2 separate regions of the Homo sapiens genome follow, and region 1 is linked to region 2. The links come from fine-mapping of genetic effects on gene expression. A gene starts in region 2. The other region holds a variant in brackets. All regions are shown on one strand. Distances are from middle to middle. Region 1 has its middle 12 kb from the start of CYP3A7-CYP3A51P. Region 2 holds the start of SMURF1 (SMAD specific E3 ubiquitin protein ligase 1).

Region 1 (5,378 bases), 600 kb after region 2:
CAGAAATACAAACTACCATCAGACAATACTATAAACACCTCTACACAAATAAACTAGAAAATCTAGAAGAAATGGATAAATTCCTGGACACATAAACCCTCCCAAGACCAAACCGGGAAGAAGTTGAATGTCTGAATAGACCAATAACAGGCCCTAAAATTGAGGCAATAATTAATAGCCTACCAACCAAAAAGTCCAGGACCAGATGGATTCACAGCTGAATTCTACCAGAGGTACAAAGAGTAGCTGGTACCATTCTTTCTGAAACTATTCCAATCAATAGAAAATGAGGGAATCCTCCCTAACTCAGTTTCTGAGGCCTGCATCATCCTGATACCAAAGCCTGGCAGAGACACAACAAAAAAAGAGAATTTTAGACCAATATCCCTGATGAACATTGATGCCAAAATCCTCAATAAAATACTGGCAAACTGAATCCAGCAGCACATCAAAAAGCTTATCCACTACAATCAAGTGGGCTTCATCCCTGGGATGCAAGGCTGGTTCAACATATGCAAATTAATAAATGTAATCCATCACATAAACAGAATCAACGATTAAAAAACCACATAATTGTCTCAATAGATGTAGAAAAGGCCTTCGACAAAATTCAACAGCCCTTCCTGCTAAAAACTCTCAATAAAGTAGGTATTGGTGGAACGTATCTCAAAATAATAAGAGCTATTTATGGCAAAACCACAGCCAAAATCATACTGAATGGGCAAAAACTTTGAAACCAGCACAAGACAACGATGCCCTCACTCATGACTCTTATTCAACATAGTATTGGAAGTTCTGGCCAGGGCAATCAGGCAAGAAAAAGAAATAAAGGGTATTCAATTAGGAAAAGAGGAAGTCAAATTGTTCCTGTTTGCAGATGCCATGATTGTATATTTAGAAAACCCCATCGTCTCAGCCCAAAATCCTTTTAAGCTGATAAGCAACTTCAGCAAAGTCTCAGGATACAAAATTAATGCGCAAAAATCACAAGCATTCCTATACACCAATAACAGAAAGAGAGCCAAATCATGAGTGAACTCCCATTTGCAATTGTTACTAAGAGAATAAAATATCTAGTAATCCAAATTAAAGGGAGGTGAAGGACTTCTTCAAGGAGAACTACAAACCACTGCTCAACAAAATCAAAGAGGACACAAACAAATGGAAGAATGTTCCATGCTCATGGATAGGAAGAATCAATATCGTGAAAATGGCCATACTTCCCAAGGTAATTTATAGATTCAATGCCATCCCCATCAAGTTACCAATGACTTTCTTCATAGAATTGGAAAAAAAACTACTTTAAATTTCATATGGAACCAAAAAAGAGCCCACATTCCCAAGACAATCCTAAGCAAAAAGAGCAAAGCTGGAGGAATCACGCTACCTGACTTCAAACTATACTACAAGGCTACAGTAACCAAAAGAGCATGGTACTAGTACCAAAACAGGGATATGGACCAATGGAACAGAACAGAGGCCTCAGAACAAACACCACACATCTACAACCATCTGATCTTTGACAAACCTGACAAAAACAAGCAATGGGGAAAGGATTCCCTATTTAATAAATGGTGCTGGGAAAACTGGCTAGCCATATGTAGAAAGCTGAAACTGGATCCCTTCGTTACACCTTATACAAAAATTAATTCAAGATGGAATAAAGACTTAAATGTAAGACCTAAAACCATAAAAACCCTAGAAGAAAACCTAGGCAATACCATTCAGGACATAGGCATGGGCAAGGACGTCATGTCTAAAACACCAAAAGCAATGGCAACAAAAGCCAAAATTGACAAATGGGATCTAATGAAACTAAAGAGCTTCTGCACAGCAAAAGAAACTACCATTAGAGTGAAAAGGTAGCCTGCAGAATGGGAAAAAATTTTTGCAATCTACTCATCTGACAAAGGGTTAATATCCAGAATCTACAAAGAACTCAAACAAATTTATAAGAAAAAAACAAGCAATCTCATCAAAAAGTGGGCAAAGGATATGAACAGACACTTCTCAAAAGAAGACATTTATGCAGCCAACAGACACATGAAAAAATGCTCATCATCACTGGCCATCAGAGAAATGCAAATCAAAACCACAATGAGATACCATCTCACACCAGTTAGAACGGCGATCATTGAAAAGTCAGGAAACAACGGGTGCTGGAGAGGATGTGGAGAAATAGGAACACTTTTACACTGTTGGTGGGACTGTAAACTAGTTCAACCACTGTGGAAGTCAGTGTGGCGATTCCTCAGGGATCTAGAACTAGAAATACCATTTGACCCAGCCATCCCATTACTGGGTATATACCCAAAGGATTATAAATCATGCTGCTATAAAGACACGTGTACCCGTATGTTTATTGTGGCACTATTCAAAATAGCAAAGACTTGGAACCAAGCCAAATGTCTGTCAATGATAGACTGGATTAAGAAAATATGGCACATATACACCATGGAATACTATGCAGCCATAAAAAAGGATGAATTCATGTCCTTTGTAGGGACATGGATGA[A/G]GCTGGAAACCATCATTCTCAGCAAACTATCACAAGGACAAAAAACCAAACACCTCATGTTCTCACTCATAGGTGGGAATTGAACAATGAGAACACTTGGACACAGGAAAGGGAGTATCACACACCGGGGCCTGATGTGGGGTTGGGGGCGGTGGGAGGCATAGCATTAGGAGATATACCTTGTAAATGATGAGTTAATGGGTGCAGCACACCAACATGGCACATGTATACATATGTAACAAACCTGCACGTTGTGCACATGTACCCTAGAACTGAAAGTATTATATAAAAAAAAAGATCCAAGTTTGATAGACAACCACTATCTCATCTCAGTTACATCCACTCCTTCCTCAGACTCACTAATAAAGTGCAGCCTTTGAATAAAAAGAAGTAAAGCAGAACCCCTTTTTTGTGTGTCTCAAAGCTGCAAAAGACGTCATGGGGAGTAAGAGCTAAGGTAGAGCCATGGAAAAACCCTTAGGGAATTTAGCATTTGTTGGAGATGATTCAAGCAGGTGCAAATGACCCAATGGTAAATACTTGATCTCCCTAATAAACTGAGTTTCAAAGCTGTCCAGGAGGAAGGGGGAAAAGGCTACTCATGAGCTCTTGCTACAGAGAAGAAAGTTTGACTCTCATGTACACAGATAACAAGCCACAATCAAGGGATCCTGTTCCGACTTTTAATACTAACAATGACTGTACTTTCCTGGGAACCTACACGGAGCAAAAAGAAAATCTTCTTTATGGTGTTCACAAAGTCTGCATATCAAGTTTTGAACATCAGGTTGCTGATCTACCTGAGATTTGGGCTGTTCAAATTAGGCAAATCTGAGGTTCCTGAGAGTTAGCAAGAGAGCCCCTGTGTAAACATTGCCATGCTCTGGGTGATGCCTACACACTGTTTCTGAAAGGGTAAAACCTCAGACCTTCCTTTTGCAGAGAAACATTTTTACTGATGGAACTAAGCTGCTGTTTGCAATCATAAGAAGCCAAAGAGTGAGCTCAAAAACACTCACTTGATGGTAGGACAAAGTAGTTCCCAAAAAAAGCAGAGGTCTGGGACCTGGAATGCCAAGATTTTTAAAAAGTCCATGTGAATGGGTTTCATATCTACAAAGTGAAACAGAAATCATGTCTCAAGGATTGTGACTTTATAGATATAGGGGATGGTGAGTTACTGACTGAGGAAATGTAATGCTCAGGAGAAGGAGGTAACATTAAGGCAATAAATAACAGTAACTCCGACAGCAATGATTATGTTTGTTCATCAGGTCCTTTCCTGCCTGCACTGTGACACCCCAAAAGTCACAGTGATTAGCTAAAAGCAGCTGAAGTTTTCATGGTCCCAATCCTGGAGTGAATACTTGATAAGTGTCCTCAAACATGAGTGCTCCTGAGAGGTTCAGGCAGGAATTCTTCCAGGGCACTTCATTCCTTTATGTCTATTTAGTAAGTGGACCCCACTGATTTAGGGCTTCTCATCCTAGGTAGAAAGGGTGACTTTTTTTTTTTGTCTTCAGCAGTAATGGTTAGATTTTGCATCGCTGCATCCACTCAGTCACAGAGGGTCACTGAGAGCCTATTGTGGCCCTGTCTTTAGAATTGCTCAAAGGCTTTTATGCTTTCCCTTTCTGCTAAGCTCTGACCCTGTTTTAGGATCTGGCCCTTCTTAAACTGTCATTCACAGAGAGGTCTTGGAGGAGTCAGAGTCCTTATTTCTACAGATTGACAACTGTGCTCCAGGCTTCTACTGGCCTCGTAGAAATGCGAGCACCTTTCAGCTACACCTCAGTCTCTGTGGTCAGATGATCTGGTTGATTTCAGCTATGGGGGAGAATGATTGACTCATATTGCCCTGAATGACAGTGTGCAGAAGAATCACAACTTAAGAAACCAATTTCCAGGACATTCCTCCTCTTGTGGAATCTAGCCTTCCAACTGGTGATATTCATCTGATAAGCACAGTGCCAGTGATATGGTCTGAATCTGTGCCCCTACCCAAATCTCATGTTGAAATGTAACCCCAAATGCTGGAGGTGGGGCCTGATAGGAGGTGATTGGATCCTAGGGGCAGTTTCTCATGGTTTCACACCATCCTGCCTTCGCTGTTGTCCTCGTGACAATGAGTTTTTATGAGATCTGGTGGTTTATAAGTGTGTGGCTCCTCCTCCCCACCCTCTCTTGCTTCTACTACAGCCATGTAAGATCCGCCTGCTCCTCCTTCACCTTCTGCCATGATTGTAAATTTCCTGAGGCCTCCCTAGAGGCAGAAGTCGCTATGCTTCCTGTAGAGCCTGCAGAACTATGAGCCAATTAAATCTCTTTTCTTTATAAATTACCCAGCCTCAGGTATTTCTTTACAGCAATGCAAGAAATGACTAATATATCCAGACATGCTCATTTTTTCAAGGTGATCAATCACAAAGCAGTCAGTTTATTGCCTCTGTACATTGACTATCTCTGTAGGAAAACCCATTAAGGCTGCTGCTCTTTATGGCAGGCCTGCTTGCAACTCATCTTTGATGGGTCATGTATGGACTCCCCCAACTGGGGGTTCTGGATGTCTGAAGACCTTCCCAGTCTGATGTTACTGAGGAGCGGAGGACTAGAGGAAGAAGAAAGGCTGATGGCAGACATCACCAGCCATCAATTCAACCGTGAATCTGCTAGTCCCACAAGGTTGGCCCCAGAGAGGCAAATTAGGAAAATGCAGCTGAAAAGTATGGTGTATATAAATGGATCCATATGCCTCATATGTGCTTTCAGCTGAAAGGCAGGGGCCTTCTAATGTCCATGTACCTTCCTGTTGATAGCAAAAGATGCAGTATTTTACATAAGTAACCATAAAATGTTCCAGATA
Region 2 (5,378 bases):
AGGTGTTTCAGAAACAACACTCATCACCTGATCCTTCCCTATCAAATGTCATCCAAAAATTCCTCAAAGCATTCTTGCTTCGATAATCTAAATTCCTAAATCCAAAAATAATTTGGTAGGAGGAGAAACCAAGTCCTCCCTTTCAAGGCTCAGGCTTGGCAAATAGGATTGATTAATATACATACACCAGACATAAACATTTCAATTAAAACCTATTCCTTCTAAAACATTCATCATATTTCTAACACAAAATCAGTTGCTTTCGCTTTTAACAAGATAACTGAAACCAATCTGATGTCAATTACAGACTGAGCTGTAAATCAGAACCAAGTTAAAAGCTTTACAAGTATTACAATCTCAAAAATGTTACTTTTATCTTACCACATAAATAAAAATGTATCTACATTGTATCTACAAAGTGAGAAGCGTTTCCTATCAGCCCTGGCATAAAGAAATGTATTTCCCCAGAAGCAAAGATCCCAGAGGAAACTACCTCCTACGTTACAAAACCAGGGTCTGGGTTTGGGTCCAAATCATTATTTGATATCTTTATACAAAAAAACAAAACCTTCTCTTAAGACAAAAGTTGGGCCATGCAACAACTATGGGCTCTCAAAGTAAATTTTAGTTTAAAAAAATTACCTATTGTTTGCATGGATTTTACCGATGACTTTATGGCTGCGCATCTGCCATAAAGTGTTCAAAACGCTCATTCTCTCTTTGAAAGGACCTGACCAAACCAGGACTTTGGAGTTCTCACCCGACTGAGCCACTGAACAGAAAAATCCAGGGGAAAATCCCTGACGGGGATTAGAATGAACTTTTTAGTTTCCTTCCAGAGCTGGAAATATTCGAGTTTGGAAAGTCCCGGAGCAGAGCCGCATTTGCAACACGGCCATCCTGCTTTAGGGATGAATTGAAACTGGAAAGAGAGTAGTACCAATGAGAGTGAGAAAGGGAAGACGAGGATGCAGCCTGGTCCAGAACCTCTGGAGCCCGGGGGGAAACAGGTTGGCATCACATCCGCGCCACCAAGTCGCAGGCCCGCGGCAGAGCGTTGCGCTCACCCTTGAAGGTGGCACTACAGAGCCACCCAGGAAACACGGACTTTTCATTGAAGACAAAATGAATCAAGGAGCCTGCGTGTGGGCAGCTTCCAAAGCCTCCAGTGAGTGTGGGAGTAGGGATCAGAGCCTCACGGCGCTCTGGGTTGCTGAGTGTGGGGGTGATGGTGAAACAAAATGCAGAAAAGGTAAAAATTGAAGAAGCAGAGTTAAAAGTAGCTAGCGGTCTGGCCTAAGAGACAGGAAGTGGCCCAGACTGAGACTGAAGAGGGCTGGACCAGGGGGAAGTGAAGAGAGCAGGACTGGGAGCAGCTACAAGATAGGATTGAGGAATTTCAGGCTGAAGGAAAGAAAGGGTGGAGGCCTCGCCAGACAGCAGCGAGGGGGCGGGGCTAGGCAGGAATGAGGGCGGGGCTTGAAAGTGAGGGGCGGGGCTAGGGGAAGAAGGGAGGAGGACGGTGTGGGGGGGTGAGGGAGAAACGAAAGAGGATGGGGGAGTGAGAAGAGGGTGGGTGGGGGCAGGAGGGGAGAAGCAAGGGGGCAAGTGGAAGGGGAGGTAGCAAAATAGCTTGGAAGTGGTGGGAAAGACCAGGAGGATGAGGGGAGGGAGCAGGTGGGAGGGAAAACAGGAAAGCAAGAGAGATGATGGGAAAGTGGTGAGAAGTGAGGGATGGGACCAGGGGAACAGAGGCAAGGCCAGGAGGGAAAAGCGAGGGGGCAGGTGGGCGGAGAGGATGGGAAGCGAGGAGAAGGAGGGAGGGGGTAAAAACGGCGGAGGAGAAAAAAAGGAGAGAAGCAAGGGGGCGGGACCAGGAAGAAGTGAGGGCCGATGCTAGGAAAGAAGTGAGGAGGCGGGACCAGGAAGAAGTGAGGGCCCAGGCTAGGAAAGAAGTGAGGAGGCGGGACCAGAGAGAAGCGAGGGAGCTGGACGCAGGGAGAAGCGAGGGGGCGGGGACAGAAAGTTAGGAGGCGGGAGCAGAGAGGAGCGAGGGGGTGGGGCCAGAGAGATGGGCGGGGTCAGGTTTGGGGAGGAAAGGTGGGGAAGAGAAAGGACCACAGGGATGGAGGTGAAAGGCAAGGGGGCGGGGCCTGGGGGGAGAAGCGAGGGGTCAGGTGCTAGGGAGAGGAAGGGAAGCGAGAGGCAAGGGGCCGAGCCGGGGAGAGGTGAGGGGAAAGGGCCTGGAAGGAGATGCAAGGGGCGGGGCCAGGAAAAGAGAAGCGAGGGGCGGGGCCAGGGAAGGAGATGCAAGGGGCGTGGCCATGAATGGAAATGAGAGGGGCGGGGCCAGGACGGAGATGCGAGGGGGCAGGTGCGGGGGAACGGGAGGGAACGCGAGACCGAGGGGGCGCGAGCGGCCAGGGGGCGGGGCCGGGCAACGGCGAGGGGGCGGGGCCAGGAGGGAGAAGCGAGGGGCGCACGCCGAAGGGGGTGACGAGGTCCTGGGACAACGGCCGGCGTGGGGGAGGGCCGCTTCCAAGGGCGCCCTGCGGGGAATTCCGGGGCGGGCGAGGGGGCGCCGGGGCGCGGGTGGGCCTCCCGCCGGCCGTACCTGTCAGACGGATCTTGATGCTGGAGCCGTTCCTGCGTGTCCCGGGGTTCGACATCTCCCGCCAACGATCGGGCAGCCGCGGATCCAGCGCCACCGCCCCCCAGCCCGGCCCGGCCCGGCCCCGCCGCCGCCGCCTCAAGGTTACGGCTCCGGGCTGGGCGCCGGGGTCCGAGCCGGGACACAAACTCCGCGGCCCAGGCGTCCGGGCGGCAGGCGGATGGTCGAGCCGGGAGATCGGCGCTTGCTGCGGCGCTCTGACCCTCGCTGCTTCCAGCCGAGCCCAGTCCCGAGCCGCCGCCGCCTCCGCCGCCGCCTCCGCCGCCTCCACCACCTCAGAGCCGGACGCCCGCCGCCCTCGCCGCTTCCGCCGCTGCCGCCGCCTCTCCGAGCCGCGCGCGCGCCCGCCGCCGTGCCGGCCCGGCCCTGCGCGCCCCCGCGCCTGCGTGCGTGCGCGCCCCCGCCACGTACGCTGGGGCGGGGCGGGGTGCGCTGCTACGTCGCCCGCACGCCTGCCTCGGGCGCGCGGGGCCCGGATCCCGCGGGTTGGGGTCTTCACCCTTCCTGTGGTCGGTGGGTGGGAGGGTCTGGCCCCGAGCCCGGGAAGGGAGAGCAGAGCTGGCCCCGGGACCCAGCGCGCGGTCGCCCTCTGTCTTGACCCCTGTCTCTGCGAGGCTCTGGGCTCCTGAGTGACTGAAGAGTGGTTTGCATGAAACCGTGGGCTGTGTCCACACCAAGCTCCTTGCACACAGGCGTGCAATACCAGTTTTTTTCAGTTAAGAGCTTTCGATCGTGCAAGTTCAAGGGAGGGACTTCTCAAAGAGACAAAGCCCTTAGGTGTGTTCTGTGCAACGGGTGTGCTCCACTGACCCATAACAAAGTTGCCAGAATCGCAGAAGTGCCATATACGGACAAGGAAAACGAGATGAGAGGGAGGGATAAAGTTGAGAGGCGGATGTTTGTTATTATCCATTCTGCATACAATTTTACCAAACAAGAAAGTGGCATTGTGGTTTGTGTTCCCATGTCTTCTGCTAAATTTCCCCTTCTCCCGGGGTTGCAGGTTAGAACCAAAAGCTCATGGCTGGGTACGGTGGCTGTAGCCTGTAATCCCAGCACTTTGGGAGGCCGAGGCGGGCGGATCACTTGAGCCCAGGACTTTGAGGCCAGCCTGGGCAACATAGGGAGACTCCATCTCTACAAAAAATACAAAAATTAGCTGGGCATGGTGGTGCGCGCCTGTAGTCCCAGGTACTGGGAGGCTGAGGTGGGAGGATCACTTGAGCCCCAGAGTTCATGGCTGCAGTGAGCTATGATCAGGCCACTGCACTACAGCCTGGGTGACAGAGCTAGACACTGTCTCAAAACACACACACACACACACACACACACACACAGAAAAAGCTCATTATGCGCTTTCTCCAGCAAACAAACTCCTCTCTGTTAGCATGTTATAGAAATAAACTGGTATTATTAGAAAGAGGGAAAACTAGGTTTATCAAACTTGTTTTTTACCCACTACCTTGTTGTTGTTGTTGTTGTTTTTTGAGACAGGGTCTCACTCTGTCACCCAGGCTGGAGTGCAGTGGCACGGTCTTGGCTCACTGCAACCTCCACCTCCCAGGTTCAAGTGATTCTCGTGTCTCAGCCTCCTGTATAGCTGGGATTACAGGCGTTAGCCACCACACCCAGCTAATTTTTGTATTTTTGGTAGAGATGGGGTTTCGCTGTTTTGGCCAGGCTGGTCTCAAACTTCTGAGCTCAGGTGATCTGCCCGCTTCAGCCTCCCAAAGTGCTGGGATTTCAGGCCTAAGCCACCGCTCCCAGACCCCACTACCCATTTTCATGTACAAGTTCTTTTTTATTTTTATTTGATTCTTCATCAATCAACTTGAACAAATTCTTTTAATACTGTGTGTGTGTGTGTGTGTGTGTGTGTCCCAAGGAAAGTAGGCTCTGGGCCATTGCTACCATCCCCTGCAGCCTTGTGCCTGTCCTAAGGTCACAGTCTTCGGAACAGAGCCTTCTACCTAGAGCGCCTAGACATACCTGCCTGCCTGCCCGCCTGCCTGCCTGCCTGCCTGCCTCGGATGACCCTAGTGAAAGCAGAGTCTCTCCTGGGCAGGATTCAAGGCATCACATCTGTCAAATAAAAGGATGGTCCTAGGTCATTTCTATGGCACCTTGCGGCTCTTTCAGTTATCCTCAAGAAAGACCCAAGAATATAAGCAATGTTTAAGCAATAGCAGTAGAGCCACAATCCAGCTGTTTCCATTTGTAGATGATTGTCACAGAGAGTGAATGCCTGGGTCTGAATTAATCCATCCAGTCTCTAATGCTCCCAAGTAATCCCCATTCTTCTGCCAATCCCGTTAGTATTTCCCCCCTATTCAAAGAGTCTCCTCTCTAAACAAAACCAGACATCACTCTCTGCTTACCTGGGTGCAGGCTCCTGTTCTTATCCCCAGGTGTTCCTGACCTGGAAACCTTTCATTGCTTAATTTTGTTGTTTTTCTCCCCGCCCCGACGGCTGGTTCTTCGTTGGCTTGACTGTTTCCTTAATCTTTGAGTCAGGAGGTTGCTTCTGGAGGTTTCTGAAAGGCATTTTGTTCATTCATTAACAAGTACAGATGCTCCTTGATGTACAATGGGGTTACATTCTGATAAACCCATAATATGTTGAAAATATGTCAAAAATGCATTTGCGGAGGCCGGGCATGGTGGTTCATGCCTGTAATCCCAGCACTTTAGGAGGCTGAGGTGGGGG

Evidence for each region. PIP is the estimated chance that this variant, and not a neighbour inherited with it, causes the effect.
Region 1: its variant is the best candidate, but not a certain one, in a credible set for the expression of SMURF1 in whole blood (INTERVAL, PIP 0.62).

Annotation. Positions count from the first base shown.
Region 1 is chr7:99,744,715-99,750,092 of GRCh38, forward strand. It overlaps the pseudogene CYP3AP2. Among named protein-coding and RNA genes, the nearest start is that of CYP3A7-CYP3A51P, 12 kb to the left of the region's middle. The variant A/G (reference allele first, on the strand shown) is at 2,516.
Region 2 is chr7:99,141,112-99,146,489 of GRCh38, forward strand. It overlaps SMURF1 (SMAD specific E3 ubiquitin protein ligase 1), which reads right to left and starts at 2,997. Exons shown (of 18, transcript NM_181349.3): 1 at 2,615-2,997. The coding sequence starts at 2,669. It also overlaps a transcript of KPNA7 not described here. RefSeq lists silencers at 2,179-2,228, 2,289-2,618, 2,759-3,258.